Homo sapiens: one gene and its partner. The protein of the gene in region 2 purifies or fractionates together with the protein of the main gene of each other region. This does not show direct contact. Each region holds a gene or a part of one and is shown on either strand. Other genes may lie near its edges.

Region 1 (2,969 bases), on a different chromosome or scaffold from region 2:
ATCTGACATTCTGCAGCAAACAGGGAGTACCTTCAGGATTGGCCTGTTATCTTCTTTAGAACTAAGTTCATCTTAAAAATTTAAGAAGGTGGACATTTCAACACCATCAAGTGCATTTAGGTGACATGTTTAAGTTAACTTGACTTCCTTGAATGACCTAGTTAGTAAACTAGTCACTAGTAATTCGGTCACCAAGCAAATCAAGCCTGCAAGAAAGGAAGCCAATATTCAAAATGCCATGTTACCATCTAAACCCATACAAATTAGTTTATTTCCAACAATAATAGGTAACTTTAATAATAAGACATCTAACTAAAGCAAGCTCCTCCAACAAGACCAAGACAGCATCTCTTCTTCTAAGGCTTAGGTTTTGCCCAGAATTCCCGATACATGGAATAGCCCATACCTAAAGAAAAAGAATGCTAGTTAAGCATTTCAGTATTTTCTTAAATATTCAAAAATAAAAACCAGTTCATAAAATAGCTGAAAGTAGCACCACTGCTAGCATGGAATATTTACAAGGGGAATAAGACCCTAGGAAGCTTATACTCTTGCCTTCTTAAACATCTTAAATCTCTAAAACTCTTGTTACATACAGTAGTTTCCCAAGTAGCAAAGGGCTGGTATGGCTACTTCACATGTTACAATATTTCTTTGAAAGAACAATCAATATTTATCTGGTAACTTTGAAAGGAATCACTCTTGCTACATAATACCAGATAAAGTCAATGAATTATAAAGCCAATAGAAGAAGCATGTAATACCTAAACTTTAAGAATCTCTCCTTTAAAAACACAATAAAATAGCAATTGTATGTCTCTCCCAGATAACAGATGTTACTATCAACCCCAATTACATGTCTAGGCTCTTCAATGAAATTATAAACTCAGTGATTGACAGGATTTTTTTTTTCTTTAAAATCTTAGTAGGATATATCATAGAAAAACTATGTCACTACTTGAATTATCTTCATTAATTCATTTTTTACATGAAAATGAGTATAAGTGATATTCTCCAACTGCTAAAAGGTCAGCTAAAAATATTTACCTATTTTGTTTGTAAAGAAATACCTTAATGAGAAACGAAAATTTGAAATTTCCTATAGGAACCTACCAACAGTCATTGCTCCTACAACAAAGCCTTGGGCTGCCACACGCATGTGGATCAGATGAATGGACATTTTAGTATTTCCCCTGCTCTTCAGTTTATATAATCCATATGCAACAATTGCTGCAAAACCCGCTATTCCTGTAAAACAAAGTAACAAGTATGTCAGATGCATGAGAAGGGACCAAGATGACTTTACCATCAGTCAATGTACATTCTATTATTTTTATGAGGATTCTTTATCAGATCATTAATTAGCTAACATACAAATTGAGTTTTTCATGTTTTCCCCTATCAAAACCAAAAATCTTTAAGCAAACAACAACAGATCCAGAAAGTCAGGATTATCTTTAAAAACATGGGTTTGTGGGGCCAGTAGATAAACTCCTTTAAAAAACTGCTAGGGAATTAACAGGAACCTAGATTATGATTATCAGAACGAAAGTGTGCCAAAGGTCTTGACTTAGAGAATGAATTTATTCCATTTCCTCTCTGTCCTATTTCCCTCCCTCAAGGTAATCAGTTAATATACCAGAGACAATCCTACACACTACTACCACTGAGAAACATTGCCTGAATATTTCAAACTTTGGGATATTGTACTGGGAAGAAGTAAATAAAGGAAAAGAATAGAGCAATATTAGTTTCAGTTAAAAGGATTATGATCCTAGAGTTCTATACAGAGCCAAACTCTCATTCATTTTGAGGGCAAAAGCATTCAGGACATGACCTTCCATGTTTTCTTTTTAAGATTTATTATTTTATTTTTTAAGAGATGGGGTCTTGCTCTGTTGCCCAGGCTGGAGTGCAGCCGCACAATCATAGCTCACTGCAGCCTTGTTCTCCCAGGCTCAGGTGATCCTCTTCGCTCAGCCTCCCTAATAACTGGGACTACAGGAGGGCTGTCTTTCCCAAGCTGCCACCCAGGTACTGATACAAAAACCTAGAGGAAAATATCCAGTCAAATAAAAACAGTGAGTCAAAATGGACAGTTCAAGAAATAAAGACATAATGGTTAAGATATAATGGTGAGCAATAAAGACAGAAAAATCTGTACTGGTTCCTTGAAAATGACTGGTATAATATAGCAAAATTAAGAATCTGAAATTAGGCTATGATTATCACAACAAAACGTGTGCTAAAGGTCTTAGGGAATAAATTTATATTCATTTTAATACAGGAAATAGATGAAAAAAACACATCCTAGTTTGACAATGTAAAGATAACCACCAGCAAGCAGTGTAAGAATAGCCGCAGAACTTCCAAATCATAAGGAGGAAAAAAAAATTAGGGCTGGGAGCAGTAGCTCACACCCATCATCCCAGCACTTTGGGAGGTTGAGGCAGGTGGATCACCTGAGATCAGGGGTTTGAGACCAGCCTGGCCAACAGCCTGGTCATCTCTACTAAAAATACAAAAAATTAGCCGGGCATGGTGGCATGCGCCTGTAATCCCAGCTACTTGGGAGGCTGAGGCAGGAGAATGCTTGAACCTGGGAGGCGGAGGTTGCAGTGAGCCGAGATCACACCACTGCACTCCAGCCTGGGCGACAGAGCGAGACTCCATCTCAAAAATATATATATATATATATATATATATAAATTTTTAAAGTCATAAAACTTTAAAATAATCTAATATAGCAGCAAAATAAATAAATGGAGCAAAAATTGTTAGGAACACAAGATTAGCTCTATTAGAAGACAACAAAATGGGAAAATCTGTCTCTTTCAGAAAACAACAGAATAAGAAGCCCCAAACTAAAGCTACAGAATTGCACGGCACCATTAAATAAACTTACTTAAATTCTTAAAAATAAATAAAATTTAATATTTTAATTTAAAACAGAGATCCCACATTCTTTA
Region 2 (3,928 bases):
GTCTCACTCTGTCACCCAGGCTGGAGTGCAGTGGTGCAATTATGGCTCACTGCAGCCTCAAACTCCTGGACCCAAGCAATCCCCTGCCTCAGCCTCCCAAATTGCTGGGCCTACATGTACACACCACCATACCCAGCTGTATTTTTAGTAGAGAGGAAGTCTCATGTTGCCCAGGTTGGTCTCAGACTCCTGGCCTCAAGCAATCCCTCCCACCTTGCTGGGATTACAGGTGTGAGCCACTGCTCCCAGTCAGGAGCCTATTATCTCATCTCATGACCTCTACTACCTGCAACCTCTAACTAGACAACCTGAAAGCATATTTTTCTAAGGTGAGGCTGGGTAGGAATCTATGAATTCATCAGTAAAAATTTACCCTTGATACTAGGAAAACAATCGGAGGCATCAACCTTTCTGACGACAAGTTTCTCTTTCTCCTGAGGATGTTGACGGATATAGCAGCAACAAACATTAAATGAGCAGTTATGATATGCCAGGCAGTTCCATGCACTTTACATGTATTAAGGTATTCTTTAACCCTTAATTAGACATTGCAAGGCTCACCAATTTACCCACAGTCCACCCAGATAATAAGGGTCAGAGGCAGAATATGAAACCAGAGAATGTGATTCTCAAAGTCCTTGAGCTCTTAATCACTATACTATTTTTTCATGTAAATTATCACAATTTATAGTATGATAGAATGTCACATTCTGGCGCTCAAACTGGCCATAGTCTTTTTCTTTTTTTGAGACAGGCTGGAGTACAGTGGCATATGCGATCACAGCTCACTGCAGCCTCAACCTCCCCAGACCTACGTGATCCTCCTACCTCAGCCTCTTGAGTAGCTAGGACTACAGGCGTGGGCCACCACACCCGGCTAATTTTTGTAAAAATGAGGTTTCACCACATTGCCCAGGCTGGTCTTGAACTCCTGGGCTCAGGCAATCCACCCACTTCAGCCTCCCAAGGTCCTGGGATTACAGGCATGATCCACCATGCCCGGCCTCAAAGTCTTATATACATTTTAGGTCATCACTTACTTCTAGCTTGCGAACAGGTACTTCCAGAGGGCAGGCCTATGGTCCAAACCCCAGGAGCCAATCTTTCACTTGGGACTTGTATCTAGAGCACATTGCTGAGAACTCTCAGACTGGAGAGTGGCCCAAGGTAACATTTCTGCAAACTGCAAAGTAGTTGACATTATTTAGTCCTGTTTCCTACCCCTTTTCAGAGCTTAAATCACATAAATATTCCCTTCACATCTGTGGTGGGTTGAATAGTGTCCCCCCCAAACCTCATGTCCACCAAGAACCTCATAATGTGACTTTATCTGGAAATAAGGTCTTTGCAGGTGTAATTAGTTAAGGATCTCAAGAGGAAATCATCCTAGATTTAGGGCAGGCCCTAAATCCAATGACTCATGCCCTTATAAGAAGAGGACAAGATACACAGAGACACACAGAGAGAAAGAAGAGCATGTGAAGACAGGGAGAAACTGGAGTTATGCTGCCAGAAGCCAAGAAATGCCAGGAACTACCAGAAGCTGGAAGAGGCAAAGAAAGATTCTCCCCTAGAATCTGCCCTGTGGACACTTCCTTTTGGGCTTCTACCCTCCTCAACTGTGAGAAAAAACTTCCTACTATTTTAGAGCCACCTAGTTTGTAGCAATTTGTCATGAAAGTCCTAGAAAATGAATGCAACACCTAAACTACAATATTACATTCTAAAAAAAAAAAAGAAAAAAAAGGAAAACAGCAGCAGGCACCGTACAAAAATATACCAAAAAGATCTAATAAAATGTCCTAGCAGATAGAATCAATAAAATGTCGAGAAAGCAGTTCAATAAAAGGATTGACACAAGAGAATACAATGTGTGGACTTTCAAAATAACCAAGTATTTCCAAAAGCATACTGTTATAAATCTAAACAGCAAAATTTATACACACACACACACACACAGAGAGAGAGAGAGAGAGAGAGAAAGAGAGAGAGAGAGAGTTTTTTGAGTTTGTTTTTTTTGTTTGTTTTTTTTTTGAGACAGAGTCTTACTCTGTCACCCAGGCTAGAGTGCAGTGGCATGATCTCAGCTCACTGCAACCTCTGTCTCCTGGGCTCAAGCGATTCTCGTGCCTCAGCCTCCTGAGTAGTAGAGATCATAGGCACGTGCCACCATGCACGGCTAATTTTTTTGTATTTTTTGGTAGAGATGGAGTTTCACCACGTTGGCCAGGCTGGTATCGAACTCCTGACCTCAGGTGATCTGCACACCTCGGCATTACAGGCATGAGCCACCACTCCCAGCCCCAAACAGCAAAATTATTTTAAATACAAGTGACAGTTGCCTAGCATGGTGTTATTGACAAGGAATAGGAAATTACATTGAATTTTACATCATATACCTCACCATGAGATAACAGTGATTACAAACAAAGCCATATATATATATATATATATATGTATTTTTTTTTTTTTTTTTTTTGAGTTGAGGTCTCACCCTGTTGCCCAGGCTGGAGTACAGTGGCCCAATCATGCAGCCTCAAACTCCTGGGCTCAAGCAAACCTCCCACCTCAGCCTCCTAAATCACTGGGATTACAGGCATGAGTCACTACTCCCGGCTCAGAAACAATGCAATTAAACACCAATTATCAATAAAGTTGGGTGACATTCAAGAAAGTGCATCTTCATACACCAGCTATCAACCTAAGTTCTACAGGGACTCAAGGTACTTTTGCATTCCATTCAATTTCATTTACATATACAAAAATACACATACATAGTAGCAGCACACACACCCCTTTTTCCCCCCATGGGCTGAAAAATTTAATATTGTTGAAATATCCATACAATCCAAAGTGGTCTACAGATTCAATGCACTCCCCATCAAAATTACAATGACATTCTTCAAAGAAACTGAAAAAGCAACCGTAAATTTTGTACAAAAGCATAAAAACCCTGATTAACACAAACAATCCTGAAGAAAATGAACAGAGCTGGAGGCATCACACTAGCCAACTTACAAATATACTACAGAGCTATATTAACCAAAACAGCATCTACAATCAACTGATTTTTGACAAATGAAACGTACCTTTCTTAATAGCACAGAATCTTTACACTTTAACTATCTACTAAAATTAGTAGTAAGGGGCTTTTAAAAAGGGGTAGAGCACCAATATCAATACTATAGATAATAATAGCAGACAGCATTTGCTGAGCTCTTACAATATGCCAGGCACTATTTCAAAGACTTTAACTATATCAACTCATTTAATCCTTACAACAACCCTAAAGGAGGCAAATACTTTCATTATATCCATTTTACTGATGAGAAAACTGAAACACAGAACTTTTTGAGGTGATGAAAATGTTCTATGTCATAACTGTGGCAGTGATAGTTACATATGAATATATTTATTAAAACGTATTGAGCTGGACATGCTGTTGTATATAAACCATACTTCAACAAAGCTGAAGAAAATGAAAAAAGAGGCCAGGCATGATGGTTCACACCCGTAATCCCAGCTCTTTGGGAGGCCGAGGTGGGCAGATCACTCGAGCTCCAGAGTTCGAGACCAGCCTGGGCAACATGGCAAAACCCCGTTTCTACAAAAAAGTACAAAAATTAGCTGGGCATGATGTCATGCGCCTGCAGTCCCAGCTACTCGGGAGGCTGAGGTGGAAGGATCACTGGAGCCCAGGGAGGTAGAGGCTTCCAGTGAGCTGTGATCATGCCACTGAACTCCAGCGTGGGCACCAGAGAGGGACCGTGTCTCAAAAAAAAAAAAAAAAAAAAAAAAAAATTGGTCAGGCACTGTGGCTCACACCTGTAATCCCAGCACTTTGGGAGGTCGAGACGGGTGGATCACCCAAGATCAGGAGTTCAAGACCAGCCTGGCCAACATGGTAAAACCCTATCTCTACTAAAAG

The links. Proteins that work in one complex are often made in the same cells at the same time.
Region 1: the proteins of FAM13B (region 2) and HIGD1A purify together in Homo sapiens (affinity purification with mass spectrometry; one large-scale study listed by BioGRID and IntAct). This does not show direct contact.

What each region holds. Positions count from the first base shown.
Region 1 is NC_000003.12:42,784,915-42,787,883, forward strand, and holds part of HIGD1A (HIG1 domain family member 1A, mitochondrial), read right to left. Parts: intron 1,249-2,969; coding exon 1,114-1,248; intron 407-1,113; coding exon 357-406; 3' UTR 1-356. UniProt on the Homo sapiens protein: Proposed subunit of cytochrome c oxidase (COX, complex IV), which is the terminal component of the mitochondrial respiratory chain that catalyzes the reduction of oxygen to water. May play a role in the assembly of respiratory supercomplexes.
Region 2 is NC_000005.10:138,022,855-138,026,782, forward strand, and holds part of FAM13B (protein FAM13B), read right to left. Parts: intron 1-3,928.